Linked DNA regions of Homo sapiens: region 2 is linked to region 1. Evidence: fine-mapped expression QTL. Tissue or cell type: esophagus muscle. Region 1 holds a variant in brackets; the other region holds the start of a gene. All regions are shown on one strand. Distances are from middle to middle.

Region 1 (8,107 bases):
ATCGTGCACTTTATTGCTATTTCTTTTAAAGGTCTTAAAGACGCCGGGCCCAGTGGCTCACGTCTGTAATCCCAGCACTTTGGGAGGCTGAGGCGGGTGGATCGCCTAAGGTCAGGAGTTCGAGACCAGCCTGGCCAACATAGTGAAACCCCGTCTCTACTAAAAATACAAAAAATTAGCTGGGCATGGTGGCGCACACCTGTAATCCCAGCTACTAGGGAGGCTGAGGCAGGAGAATCGCTTGAACCTGGGAGATGGAGGTCATAGTGAGTTGAGATCATGCCATTGCACTCCAGCCTGGGCAACAAGAGTGAAACTCCGTCTCAAAACAAAACAAAAAAAGGTCTTGAAGAACGAATGAATTGCTTTACCTGTAGACCAGAAAGAGGTCCAGTGTGATGAGTAAGGTGAGACCAGGGGAGAGTAGCAGATAAGAAAGATATGCATCCACCAAATTGTGTAGTGCATTCTAAGCCATAGTATGAAGTTCTGGATTTCTTCTAAGAGGGCCATTAGAGTTGTTTTGCTTGCAATTATGGAAAAGCTTTAATTTTCATTTTCTTGAAAGGGGAAAAGCTAAAAACATTTGGTTTTAATTGCAAGAAAAAAGGTGTTTGATACTGTAATTGTCATTGGCCTCCATGTAATTATTTTTTTATTTTTTTATTTTTGAGATGGAGCCTCACTCTGTCACCCAGGCTGGAGTGCAGTGGTGTGATCTCGGCTCACTGCAGCCTCCACCTCCCGGGTTCAAGCGATTCTCATGCCTCAGCCTCCCAAGTAGCTGAGATTACAGGTGTGCACTGCCATGTCTGGCTAATTTTTGTATTTTTAGTAGAGATGGAATTTCACTGTCTCTACTAAATATGTTAAAACGCCGTCTCTACTAAAAATACAAAAATTAGACGGGGTTTCATTATCTCTACTAAACATGGTGAAACCCTGTCTCTACTAAAAATACAAAAATTAGCCGGGCGCAGTGGTGTTCGCCTGTAATCCCAGCTACTCAGGAGGCCGAGGCAGGACAATCTTTTGAACCTGGGAGGCAGAGGTTGCAGTGAGCCGAGATCGCGCCACTGCCCTCCAGCTTGGGAGACAGCAAGACTCTGTCTCGGAAAAAAAAAAAAAAGAAATATCTTCAGAATTTAATTTAGACATTTTGCCTACATCAATTGGTCAGACAGATTTATGCTTTCTTTGCTAGATGTTTTAAAGTCATAAAACTGTTGCTTCCGTGATATTTTTAATACTTGCTTGATTTGTGTATAAGTTAAAACTATGAGGTCAGGCTGCGGGGCTCCCCTGAAACCTTGCACACATTTTGATATGAGCTTTTGTCTTTGGCTTTGGGCCTCTGGATTCTGAGATCTAGACAGGTGGCCATGGTGAAGCCTGGAAACGTGTGTGTCTGTATCACCTGGACTACCAGCTGCATGTAAAGCTGAGTGCAGTATGGCCCTGTCCTCCCTGGCGCAACTCTGCATCCTTATCATGTTGGGAGGGGTTGGAACCTCCACCATCATCTTCACAGCTTTATCCTCTGTACTGGGCTCTATACCTGGTATGTAAATCCAGGACACAGATGGGCTCTGCCCTTCATAGCTGTCCTGGATGCCACATGGATACTCAGGAACAGGGTGACTGGGGTTGGAGAAGGACAAAGGGATATTGGGAAAAGTGCCTCTGTCCAATATCTGAAAGGCCTTGGTTAAGATGAGACTGGCTGATGCAGGGTTAGGTTAGTTTTGTGTTTTCTTTGCTCTTTATTTATTTATTTTTTGAGATGGAGTTTCACTCCTTTTGCCCAGGCTGGAGTGCAATGGCATGATCTTGGCTCAGTGAAAACCTCCACCTCCTGGGTTCAAGCGATTCTCCTGCCTCAGCCTCCTGAGTAGCGGGGATTACAGGTATGCATCACTACACCCAGCTAATGTTGTATTTTTAGTAGAGACAGGGTTTCTCCATGTTGGTCAGGCTGGCCTCAAACTCCCGACCTCAGGTGATCCACCCACCTTGGCCTCCCAAAGTGCTGGGATTATAGGCATGAGCCACCACGCCCAGCCACTTTTTATTTTTTTAAGACAGGGTCTCATTCTGTCACCCAGGCTGGAGTGCAGTGGCAACATAATAGTTCACTGGAGCCTTGAACTCCTTGGTCTCCTACTTTAGGTACACGCAACTACACCCAACTAATTGTTTTTTATTTGTTGTAGAGATGGGGGATCCCACTATGTTGCCCAAGCTGGTCTCAAACTCCTGGGCTCAAGCGATCCACCTGCCTCAGCCTCCCAAAGGGCTGAGATTAGCAGTATGAGATGAGACACTATACCTGGTGGCTTTGTTTTTTCAAAATAAATAACTTTCTAGAATGGAAGGGGCTTAATGAAAATAAATAAATAAATAAATAACATAAATGGCTAGTTTTGCTTTCCATAAGCAAATGAAATACAGTTGTTAAGAACAAGTAAATTAGATAACTGTGAATGGGATAAGCATCTACAAATAAACTTGTCATAGTTTCCAAAACTTTTTCAGTAATTTAAAATCTTAAAGTCATGCTGTATTAAATGAAGTAATAGATAATTATAAATTGTCCGCATTGGCTGAGCACAATGGCTCATGCCTGTAATCCCAGCACTTTGGGAGGCTGAGACGGGAGGATTGTTTGAGCCCTGGGCAACATAGTGAGACCCCATCTCTTTTTTTTTTTTTTGAGATGGAGTCTTGCTCTGTCGCCCAGGCTGGAGTGCAGTGGCGTGATCTCGGCTCACTGCAAGCTCTGCCTCCTGGGTTCATGCCATTCTCCTGCCTCAGCCTCCTGAGTAGCTGGGACTGCAGGCACCTGCCACCATGCCCAGCTAATTTTTTGTATTTTTTAGTAGAGACAGGGTTTCACCGTGTTAGCCAGGATGGTCTCGATCTCTTGACCTCATGATATGCCCACCTCAGCCTCCCAAAGTGCTGGGATTACAGGCGTGAACCACCATGCCTGGCCCGAGACCCCATCTCTTAAAAAAAAAAAAAAGTAAAATGTCTGAGTTATTTCTAAGTGAAAATACTGAAACATTAATTATTAAACTTAAGTTTATATACTTTGATGTCTTTTTTTCATTTTTCCCACTTATTCTCAAGTTCTGTTTTTTTTTCATTTTTTTGATGTCTTGTTTCATATGATATAGAAAGCTAAATATATTTGGATTCATTAATAACACTTTGAGAAAACATATCTTTTTAGAAATTATTAAGTGGCTGTTGTCTGCAAATACTGATATAAAACAATTCAAAATTACTGACTTCCTGGGTTGTCACTAGAAATTAGGGTTACTAAGAGTTAAAATTCAAAGTAATATATGTAATTAAAACTACTGAAAGTAAGAAATAATTTTGTGGCCGGGCGCGGTGGCTAATGCCTGTAATCCCAGCACTTTGGGAGCCAAGGCGGGCGGATCACGAGGTCAGGAGATTGAGACCATCCTGGCTAACACGGCGAAACCCCGTCTCTACTAA[T/C]AATACAAAAAATTAGCAGGGCGTGGTCGTGGGTGCCTGTAGTCCCAGCTACTAGGGAGGCTGAGGCAGGAGAATGGTGTGAACCCGGGAGGCGGAGCTTGCAGTGAGCCGAGATCGCGCCACTGCACTCCAACCTGGGCGACAGAGCGAGACTCCATCTCAAAAAATAAATAAATAAATAAATAAATAATTTTGTATACAGAGTACGATAAAAACAACATATCTTTTTAGTGAGGAAAAGTTAAGTCATGAGTATATGTGCTTTTGTTTAAAAATTTTTGTTTTGGCTGGGCACGGTGGCTCACGCCTGTAATCCCAGCACTTTGGGAGACTGAGGCGGGTGGATCACAAGGTCAGGAGATCGAGGCCATCCTGGCTAACACGGTGAAACCCCATCTCTACTAAAAATACAAAAGAAATTAGCTGGGCATGTAGTCCCAGCTACTCGGGAGGCTGAGGCAGGAGAATGGTGTGAACCCAGGAAGCGGAGCTTGCAGTGAGCCGAGATTGCGCCACTGCACTCCAGCCTCAGCGACAGAGCGAGACTCCATCTCAAAAAAAAAAAAAAAATTGTTTCTAGCCACTGAAACAATAACAAAAAAAATGAAAAACTTTTGCCTAATTAAAGGTTATTTAAAGATTGTCTTAGAATAAATATATGGCACTTTGGGAGGCCAGGGCGGGTGGATCACCTGAGGTCAGGACTCTGAGACTAGCCTGGCTAGCATGGTGAAACCCCATCTCTATTAAAAATACAGAAAAAAAAAAAATTTAGCTGGGCGTCGTGGTACGTGCCTGTAGTCCCAGCTGCTTGGGAAGCTGAGGCAGGAGAATCGCTTGAACCCGGGAGGGGGAAGTTGCAGTGAGCCAAGATTGCACCACTGCACTCCAGCCTGGGTGGCAGAGTGAGACTCTGTCTCAAAAAATAAAAATAAAAATAAATGTATGGAAAAATGTATACAAAAATAAACGGATATAAAAAGTTGGAGAAAAAATTTAAAAACTGTAAGAGGTTATAAAAGGCTTATGGATTTCTTATGTGGTCAAAGTTGACTGAGACTGGATCTATTTGTTTATAAGGTTTTATTATTAATATTTATTTATTCATTGTTTGTTTTGTTTTGTTTTGTTTTTAAAAGCAGGGTCTTGATCTGTGACCCAGGCTGGTGTATGGTGGTGTCGTCATAGTTCATTTGTAATCTCAAATTTCTGGGCTCAAGCAATCCTCTTGCCTCAGTCTCCCAGGTGGTTAGGACTACAGGTATGTAGCCATGCCTGGCTAATTAAAAAAACTTTTTTTTGTAGAGATGGGGTCTCGCTAGCTGTGTTGCCTAGGCTGGTCTTGCACTCCTGGCCTCAAGAGATCTTCCCACCTTGGCCTCCCAGAGTGTTGGGATTACAGGCGTGAACCACCATGCCTGGCCTTATGGTTTTATTGAAATTTGCTTTAGTAATACACTGATACAAAACTAAATTTGGTTCTCTCATTTGAACATGATTTTCTGGTGGTATTAATAAAAGATAGTAAGCCAGGTATGGTGGCTCACACCTGTAATCCCAGCACTTTGGGAGGCCAAGGCAGAAGGACTGCATAAGCCCAGGAGTTTGAGACCAGCCTGGGCAACATGGCAAAACCCTGTCTCTACCAAAAATACAAAAATTAGCTGGGCATGGTGGTTCATGCCTGTAGTCCTAGCTACTCTGGAGGCTGAGGTGGGAGGATGATTTGAGCCTGGGAGGCTGAAGTCGCAGTGAGCTGAGATTGCGCCATTGCACTCCAGCCTGGGTGACAGAGCCAGACCCTGTCTCAAAAAATAAAATAAAATATAGTAAAAGATTTTGTTCACTTTTTGAGTAAATTGCAAAAGAAAGAAGAGAGAGAGAGAGAAACAGATTGTGTGCCTCATGCTGTCTTTAAACAATTTTTAAAAAAATTTTTTGGGTCTTACTCTGTTGCCCAGGCTGGAGTGCAGTGGCATGATCTTGGCTCACTGCAACCTCCATCTCCTGGGTTCAAGCGATTCTCCCACGTCAGCCTCCCAAGTAGCTGGGACTACAGGCGCGCACCACCATGCCTGGCTAATTTTCGTATTTTTTGGTAGAGACGGGGTTTCACCATGTTGGCCAGGCTGGTCTCGAACTCCTGACCTCAAGTGATTTGCCTGCCTCAATCTCCTAAAGTGCTGGGATTACAGCTGTGGCCCACTGCACCTGGCCTGATTAAATTTTTTAATTAAAAATATTTTTTATAAACATAGTCTCACTCTGTTGCCCAGGCTGGAGTGCATTGGCTATTCACAAGTGCAGCCATAATAGCTCACTGCAGCCTTGAACTCCTGAGCTCAAGTGATCCTCCCACCTTGGCCTCCTGAGTACCTGGAATTATGGGCACAGGCCACTGCATCCGGCCCTGCTCTCTTTGTTAGATCTTTTCATTATTTGGAAAACTGAGTCTTCTCTCTATGAAAAAGTGAAGGATTTTGCTTTATAAAATCTTTTTTTAAAAAAACTATGGAATGCTTCACAAATTTGTGTGTCATCCTTATGCAGGCACCATGGTAATCTTTTCTGTATCATTTCAGTTTTAATATTATGTGCTGCCGAAATGAGCACTGCTTTGTAAAATCTTTTAAATTTTCACTTTGGCTAAATGAATAACTGTTATTTTACAGTGACCTATGATCTTCTTTTGATCAAATGTCTTAAAACTTTCCTCGTTTGTTTTCATTTAAAAACAATTTTTTTGAGACCGTGTCTCACTCTGTCACCCAGGCTGGAGTGCAGTGGTGCAGTAATGGCTTACTGCAGCCTCGACCTCCTAGGCTCAAGTGATCCTCCCCCCTCAGTCTGCCAAGTAGCTGGGCCCACAAGTGCACACCACCAACGCCTGGCTAAGAAATATTCTGTAGAGACAGAGTCCCCTGATGTTGCCCAGTCTGATCTCAAACTCCAGGGCTCAAGTGATCTTTCCACCTCAGCCTTCCAAAGTGCTGGGATTACAAGTTTGAGCCACTGAGCCTGGCCTTTTCTATTTTAATTGAGTGTTTTTATCCTTTGACATACTTGACAGGCTTCCCAAAGTCAAATTTCAAATTCTAAATTAAGTCTTTTCGGCCTCAAACTAACCTTAGGTTATCCCAGAATGGCCCCTGGAAGCCTAAGAGAGACGTATTAGGCTTATTTGATATGTAAATTATACAGGAAACCTTTGCATTACATTTATATGAACATGTTATTAATATGTGTTTTAAAAGTATATGAGATTCCTAAAAGTCTGATGTGTCTTTTTGTATGTTATCAGTCATAATTATGGCTACTATGTAAACTTGTTATAGACTACAGAAAAAAACAAATTTCCTTGTCAATCGCATCATTGTTGTAAACTCTTACCAGGTCTTTCACCATAGCCATTCTAAATCTTGTTGTTCGTAGTAAATTGCTTTATTCTAATGTTTTTTCTAAATGATCTTTGCAAGCAAATATAATCCTAAAGCATTGTGTCTTCAAAGAGGTTTATGAGAAGGATAAAAAGTCTGATACATACTCTGGAATACAGGCCTCTGTTGATTATTAAGTTGGACTGAATAAGAACTTGAGAAACTCCAATGGTAAAAACTGGACTTAAAATTGCTAATTTATCAAGTAGAACAAAAATTAATTACATGGGACGGAACTGATGAGGACTGAAATGATTTTAATGACTTTTTTGCTTGAAACGTTGCTTTTTATTATTATTTTCTTTCAGAGTTAAGAAAACTTTTTTTCTCTGCATTATCTGTAGTTTTATAGCAATTTGGTAACTTTTTGGTATATTTTGTGAGTAAAATTGAAATATTTATCTTTCTCTCTACCTGATATCTCCAGAATTAGGAAACTATTCATGAGTATTCTTGTTTTATGGCAATATTATTTATTTGTATAAGCTCAAGAGGAATCTGTTCTTGTAAAAGAACACACTTTTGGAAACATTGGCTATTAAAAAGGATGTACATCGGCCAGGCGTGGTGGCTCACACCTGTAATCCTAGCACATCTAGAGGCCAAGGCAGGAGGATTGCTTGAGGCCAGGAGTTCAAGACCATCCTGGCCAACATTGTGAGACTTTGTCTCTATAATAAAATTTTTTTTTAAAGTAAAAAAAAAAAGGACGTACATTGTATCAGTCAGGGTTCAAAGTGGGAAGCAGAACCACTAAGATATAATACATATCATCTATATCTATATCTATATCTATATCTATATATGTGTGTGTGTATGTCTATACATATATATATATTTTTTTAAACAAAGAATTGGCTTATGCAATGGAGGGGGCTGGTTAACCAAGTCCATGGTCTGTAGGGCAGACTATCTGTCAGGAAGGGAAGAACCAGAAAATGGAGAGCAGTTATAGACCCAGCTGCTGTTTGGAGTTTGACTCAGGGCATGCCCATCTCTTTATTATTATTTTTTTAATTTTTAATTTTTTAAAATAGAGACAGAGTTACACCATGTTGCCCAGGCTGGTCTCAAACTCCCTCAAGAAGTCTGTCTGGCTCGGCCTCCTAAGGTGCTGGGATTACAGGGTTGATCCACTTTGCCAGGCCTAAATCTTTTTAAAA
Region 2 (8,107 bases), 140 kb before region 1:
CCCTCTGTCGCACAGGCTGGAGTGCAGTGGTGTGATCTCAGCTCACTGTCACCTCTGCCTCCCCAGATCAGAGGATCCTCCCACCTCAGCCTCCCAAGTAGCTGGGATTACAGGTGTGCACCACCACACCTGGCTAATTTTTGTATTTTCACTAGAGACAGGATTTCACCATGATGGCCAGGCTGGTCTGGAACTCCTGACCTCAGGTGATCCACCGGCCTTGGCCTCCCAAAGTGCTGGGATCACAGGCTAGTGACTTAACTTTAATAGAGAGTGTTAGAAAAGAGGCTGGCTAACTGAATGTCAGAAGATCCATGAATAGGAAGTTTGGAGAGATGATCCTATCCAAGATCCTTTCAGAGTCAAAGGTTCTTTTGATGAACCATAAGAAGGTGTCAGTACCTTGTTCCTCAGCTCCCATTAACAACAGAAACTGTGTGAAAATAGACTGTAAGGCAGAATGTCAAAGTTACGAAGGTAGAGGGAAATAAAGCCATAGCTGCTTTGTTTACCCTAGTGGTTATTCTGTTTCTGTGTATAAAGATTTAAGTAATGCTTTTTTCTGTTTTTGTTTTTTTTCTCCCCAAACAAGTTTTTTACTTTCAAAATTCTCTAGAGCTTTGGTGTGCTTTCTTTCTTTGGAAACTTCTGGCTCTCCTAATATGTTGTTTTCAGGGTACTGTATTTTGACAAGATCATCCTTAACCCAATATTATAAAGCAACACTTCACAGAATCGCAGTTTGTGTCTATGCGTCGAAGAACCAGCCCTGTGGAACAACTTATGTTCTTTTTTGGTGCTGGTTTTTGACACAGGGTCTTGCTGTGTTGCCCAGGCTGGAGTAGAGTGGCACAGTGATGGCTCACTGCAGCCTTGACCTTCTCCTTAACCCAATATTATAAAGCAACACTTCACAGAATCGCAGTTTGTGTCTATGTGTCGAAGAACCAGCCCTGTGGAACAACTTATGTTCTTTTTTGGTGCTGGTTTTTGACACAGGGTCTTGCTGTGTTGCCCAGGCTGGAGTAGAGTAGCACAGTGATGGCTCATTGCAGCCTTGACCTTCTGGGTTCCAGTGATTCTCCTATCTCAGCCTCTCAAGTAGCTGGAATTATAGGTGTGTGCCACCATGCCCAGCTAATTTTTAATTTTTTTTTAAGAGACGGGGCCTCCCTATGTTGCCCAGGCTGGTCTCAAACTCCTGGACTCACGTGATTCTACCGCCTCAGCCTCCCAACGTGCTGGGATTACAGGTGTGACCCACTGTGCTTGGCCACAACTGGTGTTTTGAGATCATTAATAATTAATAATGAAGTAGCATCTGGTAAAATGTGTACATTAGGATAGCTTAGCTTTTCCCAACAGTCAGTGAGGTGAGTTAGTAATCATCACTCTCATTTACCAGAAACTGGGTTTTGGAGCAGCTTGCCTACCACGATCGTGGTAGATTCTAGCTGGCACTAGAATCCAGAACTTTTGACTTCCACGCCAGTGTTCTTTCTAATACAAAAGGCTACTGTTCTTTCCTAATACTGGGTTTAGAGCCTTACTTGATCGCAGAATACAGTTTTTCCTCTTTTAACCACAGCAGTTCTCTGGAGTAGGATGGCAGGCTACTTTGGCCAAAGACTTGGCCTCTAACTTAAGTGCTGTCCCTAAGTTCATTTTTGTCTAAAGGAAGTCTCCAGCAAACGTCACTACTGATGTCTGTGCATACTTGACCACCTCCTTGAAAACAGGGACGCTAACACTTGCTCCAAAAAAAAATTCTAAGAATGTTAAGAGGGCAGTATTTGTCAAATGGAATGGATTTCACTGGGCAGTGCAGCAAAATGCTTAAGTTCTGCCGTGTTTTTTGTTTTGCGTTGTTTTTTAGAGACACAGTCGCGCTCTGTTGCCCAGGCTGGAGTGCAATGGCTGTTCGCAGGCGCGATCATAGCGCGCTGCAGCCTGGAACTCCTGCTCAAGCGATCCTCCTTGAACTTAGCCGGCCTCAGCTTCCCAAGAACCTGGGACTACAGGCGTGACACCTCGCTGGTTTACTCATTTTTCTGTTGAGGTATTATTGTGTGTTTCCTACTTTTACTATGCTATTTATACTCAACATAGTAGGTGCTGAATAAATACTAGTTAGTATCCTGGCTGGTCCAATACTCAGTAAAAACTGATCTCAGAATACGAAGCTGCTTGAGACCAGGCCCTTGCCCCAGTGTTCAGAGATCCACAGGTTGCTGTGGAGGCCAATCTGCCCAACCTGGAGTTCCAGAAAGGTCTGGGGATGTGTGTTGAGTGAGTCACAGACAGCCAAACTAAGAAAGGAGGAGGTGGTAGGGTGGGGAGGCCTTGCTGGAGAAGGAACAGGTGAGTGAATGCACAGATCTCTGAATCAGCAAACTGAATGAGTGAACCGCAAGCCGATATCGGAGTTGTCATACTTGTTGGGCTAGTCATGTAACCTCCAGGACCTCCATTTCCTTATCTGTAAAAAGAAATAAATAGTCTACTTATTTGCGATTATGTGAAGATTCAATAAGGTAATATTTGTAAGTATTCGCACTTGTACTTGGCATATCAACTGGCACAAAGTAAGCGTTCAATGTTAGCCACCGTCACCATTATGCGTTCATATATTTTATTTTTATTTTTTTGAGACGGAATCTCGCTCTGTCGCCCAGGGTAGACAGAATACAGTGGCGCAATCTCAGCTAACTGTAACCTCCTGGGTTCAAGCGATTCTCCTGCCTCAGCCTCCTGAGTAGCTGGGATCACAGGCGCGCTCCACCACGCCTGGCTAATTTTTTCGTATTTTTAGTAGAGACGGGGTTTCACCATGTTGGTCAGGCTGGTCTCGAACTCCTGACCTGATGATCCGCCCGCATCGGCCTCCCAAAATGCTGTGATTACAGGTGTGAACCACCGCGCCCGGCCTACGCTTTCATAATTTAATAATACCTTATAATAATTATGAACTGTGTCATTCCACGAATAATTTATTCCCTGGTCGTTGACTGCGAACGAGGTTGACAAGGATTCATAAACAGCCATTTCAGTCCCAAAGAGCTTTTAGACAAGGAAGCCAGGACCGGCTTCACAATCCGAGACAAGCGGCAGCGTGACGTCCCCACGTCCGCTCCCAGGGTCACGTGACCCGCAGCCCCGCCCGGACTGAGTGGGTCCCCAGCGGCTGCGACAGCAGCGTCTGCGCCTGCGCGGAGGCAAGCGCGCTCTGCGGCGCGGTCCGCTGTGGAGGCGGCGCGAACGGTCAGGGGGCGGCCGATGGCTTTGAGGGGCCCTGCGGGCTTGGGGCCCGGCTCTCGAAGGCCGTTGGACGAAGCGGTGGCAGGGGCCGAGGGCCGCGAGGCGCCGGCCCTTGTGGCGGCGGGAGGCGCGCCAGAGGACGATGAAGAGGACGATGGCCGTGGCCGGGGCCTGCTGCGCTGGGACAGCTTCTCCGCCTGGCTGCACTGCGTGTGTGTGGTGGGCTTCGACCTGGAGCTGGGCCAGGCCGTGGAGGTGAGGCCCGGCCCCGCCCTTTCTCGGCGCTCCTCCCCTGCGCCGGGGCGGCTGCAGCAAAGCCAGCGGCCCGCGGGCTGACCGGCCAGGACCCTGTCCGCGGCGCATCCGGGCGTGGCCAGTCTCCCCTCCCGCGCTCTTTCGGGCTGCGGTCCTACGGCACTTCCCGTGGGAGGATCTTGGGCTGCGGCTAGGGGTGAAAAGTTCTCTCTAGGCCCCTCCTAAATACTTGTTGATGTTCATCCTGTTCTTTCTTTATTTCTTTTAAACGCAGAGTCACAGAATTAACTAAAAGGGTTAGTAGCACCCACCCGGAGAAGCCCGCAGGCAGGATGTTTGTTTGGTACTTTTTCAAGAACAATGCCCATAACAGATGATGAACTCTAGTAGCCGAACTTGCACAACCAAGTTTTAAGGCTCAGATTGTTTTAGTCATTTGCAGTAACTGTTTGAGCGTTTCCCTCAGCCTGAGTCGAAATGCTTATCTCAGCACGCATTTTCTCCCTTTCCTCCTTTTGTGCCTCATTTCTGTTTTTTTTTTTTTTTTTTTTTGAGACGGAGTTTTTGCTCTTGTTGCTCAGGCTGGAGTGCAATGGCGCGATCTTGGCTCACCGCAACCTCTGCCTCCCGGATTCAGGCAATTCTCCTGCCTCAGCCTCCCGAGTAGCTGGGGTTACAGGCATGCGACCATGCCCGGCTAATTTTGTATTTTTAATAGAGACGGGGTTTCTCCATTTTGGTAAGGCTGGTCTCGAACTCCCGACTCAGGTGGTCTGCCCGCCTAGGCCTTCCAAAGTGGTGGGATTACATGCGTGAGCCACCGTGCCCGGCCTCATTTCTGTTATTTTTTTTTATGTTGCCTCTGGAACAGTTGGTGTGAAACTACTGTCAAGATGAATATAGGGAACATCATTTGCTTGTCAATCAGTCAACTTTTCCATTCTTATGTATGGCCCCTTACCGAAAGGCTTTAGAAACATCTATTCTTGACGTTGTTGAAGGTCTTTTTAGCATAAGGAATTGCTTGCTTTCATGTGTCCAAGGAAATTGTTATCAGAAGGGCGTTTGTTTAGACGTTTTGGTTTTGGTTTTTTTTTTTTTTTTTTTTTTTTGGTATTGGTGACAGATTTCGATTTCATTAATACTGTAGTGGCCTGGTTGACTAAGAAAATTGGCTAGGGGTAGTTTTCTTAATGCGAAGCTACTGCTTTCGTATTCGGCCTGCCTTCTGGATGTTTTATTATAACACAGTTCAGCGACATTAAGTTTCCACTAAGAACCAGGCATTATGTTAGTTGTGGAGCATACAAATAGGATGTGCTCTAATCTGTATTTGTAGATTGAGGCAATAATTTAGAGGAGAACCAAGAATTAATCATAGTAGCTGATAAGGCCAAATGCAGTGCCTGGCACCTAGTGGCATTCTATAAATACTTTTGATAGAATAGGTGAATATGTGAGCAATTCTTTATCTTATTAAAGTAAGAAAAACAGTTCCCAAAGATTTTGAGTAAGAGATTTATAAGCCATTTATTATTCACCTTGCCATGTTAACCTGAAGTTATATGTACAGCAAGATACAATTTAACCAGAAAGCATAAGAATGGGTTGTTGTAGTTGATTGTGTTTTTAAATAGCTAAAGGAGATTCTTTTGGATTCTCATTATTTGGGACATTCTTTATAACGTGAATATGTTTTTTGACCAAATAAACAGAAAATATATTTGAGATGCTGCAAAAATGTGAATTATTAAAGGACTTATTTTGAATTTCATTTTCCATAGTGTATGCCACTGTATAGAGTTTTTTCTAGGTCAGGAGTTCTTAACCTTTTGCTTCCTGGATCTTTTAAAAATATGAACATTGTGAATTTTCCACTAGGAAAAGGCTGAGTAAGATGAAATCATGTATGTGGTTCCATATATGTGGTTTCCAGCTATTTAAGACATAAACCTAGTAGGGCTTCAGAAAATGGCTAGAGTTCAGAACCAGGGAAACCTCTTGGTTTTGCTCTTTTTTTGTGTGCAGATCTTGTTTATATTTCATGTTCCCTGCAAACTGCCTTCTTCCCCTTCTCTGATTTTTTTTTTTTTTTTTAAAGACAGAGTCTAACTTTGTCAGCCAGGCTGGAGTGCAGTGGTGTAATTTCGGCTCACTGCAACCTCCACCTCCCAGGTTCAAGTGATTCTCCTGCCTCAGCCTGCCAAGTAGCTGGGACTACAGGTGCATGTCACCATGCCCAGCTAATTTTTGTTTTTTGAGAGAGAGAGTCTTGCTCTGTTGCCCAGGCTGGAGTGCAGTGGGGCAATCTCGTCTCCCTGCAAGCTCCGCCTCCCTGCAAGCTCCGCCTCCCAGGTTCACGCCATTCTCCTGCCTCAGCCTCCCAAGTTGCTGGGACTACAGGCACCCGCACCACGCCCGGCTAATTTTTTGTATTTTTAATAGAGACGGGGTTTCACCGTGTTAGCCAGGATGGTCTCGATCTCCTGACAGTGTGATCTGCCCACCTCAGCCTCCCAAAGTGCTGGGATTACAGGCATGAGCCACCGCGCCTGGCCTGCCCAGCTAATTTTGTTTTTTTTGTTTTTTTGTTTTTTTTAGTAGAGACAGGGTTTCACCATGTTGGCCAGGCTGGTCTTGAACTCCTGACCTCAAGTGATACACCTGCCTCAGCCTCCCAAAGTGCTGGGATTACAGGCGTGAGCCACCGCACCTGACTTTTTTTTTTTTTTTTCCTTAGAGACATGGTCTGCCTCAGATTGGAGTGCAGTGGCATGATCATAACTCACTACAACCTCGAACTCCTAAACTCGAGGGATCCTCCTGAGTATCTATGAATACAGACATGCACCACTACACCCGGCTATTTTTAATTTTTTTTGTGGGGACAGGGTCTTGCTATGTTGCCCAGGCTGGTCTCAAACTTGTAGCCTCAAACTGTCCTGCTGCCTCTGTCTTCCAAAGTGCTGGGATTATAGGTGTTGAGCCACCATGCCCAGCCCTTCTCTGATCTTTAAGGTGAGAAGCTAACGTTTTTAGCCACTTCAGTGAAAAAGAGTGAATCTTTAACTCACTTCCAAAGCCAGAGGAAGATAATCTGGCCTGGTTTGGGGCAGGTTCCTACTCTGATACAATTGGCTAAAGCCCTGAGTAGAAGGGGGAGTGGTTCACCTTGCATAAAATGTCTTTTAAGGCCCTGTCCTAAGTGAAGGGGGTTAAGGAGGTCTTTGAGCTAGGAAGAAACTGAACAAGGTGTTGACTGCAGGGGGTGTGCTGAGCTTCTTTTCCCCTGAAGTGGCTCTGGAGGCATTACCACAGAATCAAAGTGTCCTCTGGAACAAGGTTTGAAACCTCCTGGGTTTGATATACTGTACCTCACTTTTAGCTTTGAAATTACCAATTATTTAGTAAAGCCTTAATTATCCGAATACAGAATTACCTTATTTATTCAAGTTTTTTTTTTTTTTCTGAGTGAATAATAACATACTCATTGCTGAAAACTTGGCAAGTAAAGAAATCATAAACACTAGGCCGGGCATGGCGGCTCATGCCTGTAATTCCAGCACTTTGGGAGGCCGAGGCGGGCAGATCACGAGGTCAAGAGATCGAGACCACCCTGGCCAACACGGTGAAACCCCGTCTCTACTAAAAATACAAAAATCAGCTGGGCGCAGTGGCATACACCTGTAGTCCCAGCTACTCGGGAGGGTGAGGCAGGAGAATCGCTTGAACCTGGGAGGTGGAGGTTGCAGTAAGATCGGGCCACTGCACTCCAGCCTGGCGACACAGCAAGACTTTGTCTCAAAAAAAAAGAAAAATTATAAACACTAGAAAATATCACTCTTAATTCTACTAAGAGGCAACTGCTATTAATATTCGGCATTTTTGTTAATACTTTTTTTCTTTATATAATTTTGTATCTGTCAAGGATTAACTTGATTGTTAGGAACAGAAACCTCAAATAAACTTAAGTAAAGGGACAGTGATTGTAAGGATTCCAGGCAGTCTTTTGGAATCCAAGTGTGTGGGAAGCAAGGATGAACCTGTGGGATTTGGAAAGCCCCAGGCCTTTGTCTCTGGAGCTGTGTGTTTTTTTTTGTCTTTGGTCTTTGCATGTCTGTTCTTTTCTCCATGCTGAAGCTGGTTTGTGCTGCAGTGGCCTCAGTTTCTGCTCCCCCGTTACTCTGCTTGACTTTGGGTTTCCATGGTACTAATTTTAGCCAAACTCTTTTTCTGGAATGAGGCTGAAGCTTAATATTGGAGTATCTGATTGGCTCAGCATGGGACAGGTGTCCCATTTTGTTCACTTGTGGTTAGGAGACAAGGTTTCGCTAGCAGTAGCAGTCACTTAGGCTCACCCCTGCAATAGGAGGGACACTTCCAAAGCATAGTCTGGGCAGCAGTCTCCTAAACATGTCTACTGTGAGTCTGCTTTTATTCATAAATATTCTCATAAACAGTTTGTAAGATGATTAGACTCTTAATAAGCCGAGTGTGGTGGCTCATGCCTGTAATCCAAGCACTTTGGGAGGCTGAGGCGCGTGGATCACTTGAGGTCAGGAGTTCGAGACCGCCGTAGCCAACATGGTAAAAC

What was found. PIP is the estimated chance that this variant, and not a neighbour inherited with it, causes the effect.
Region 2: DENND6A starts here. The variant in region 1 is fine-mapped to the expression of DENND6A in esophagus muscle (GTEx, PIP above 0.99).

The regions. Positions count from the first base shown.
Region 1 is chr3:57,546,851-57,554,957 of GRCh38, reverse strand. It overlaps a transcript of DNAH12 not described here and the pseudogene RNU6-483P. Among named protein-coding and RNA genes, the nearest start is that of PDE12, 5.4 kb to the left of the region's middle. The variant T/C (reference allele first, on the strand shown) is at 3,508.
Region 2 is chr3:57,688,188-57,696,294 of GRCh38, reverse strand. DENND6A (DENN domain containing 6A) reads left to right here and starts at 3,218. Exons shown (of 20, transcript NM_152678.3): 1 at 3,218-3,513. The coding sequence starts at 3,277. It overlaps DENND6A-DT (DENND6A divergent transcript), which reads right to left and starts at 3,090. Exons shown (of 2, transcript NR_135550.1): 1 at 2,953-3,090; 2 at 1-2,479. RefSeq lists silencers at 3,219-3,318, 3,429-3,668 and an enhancer at 3,390-3,890.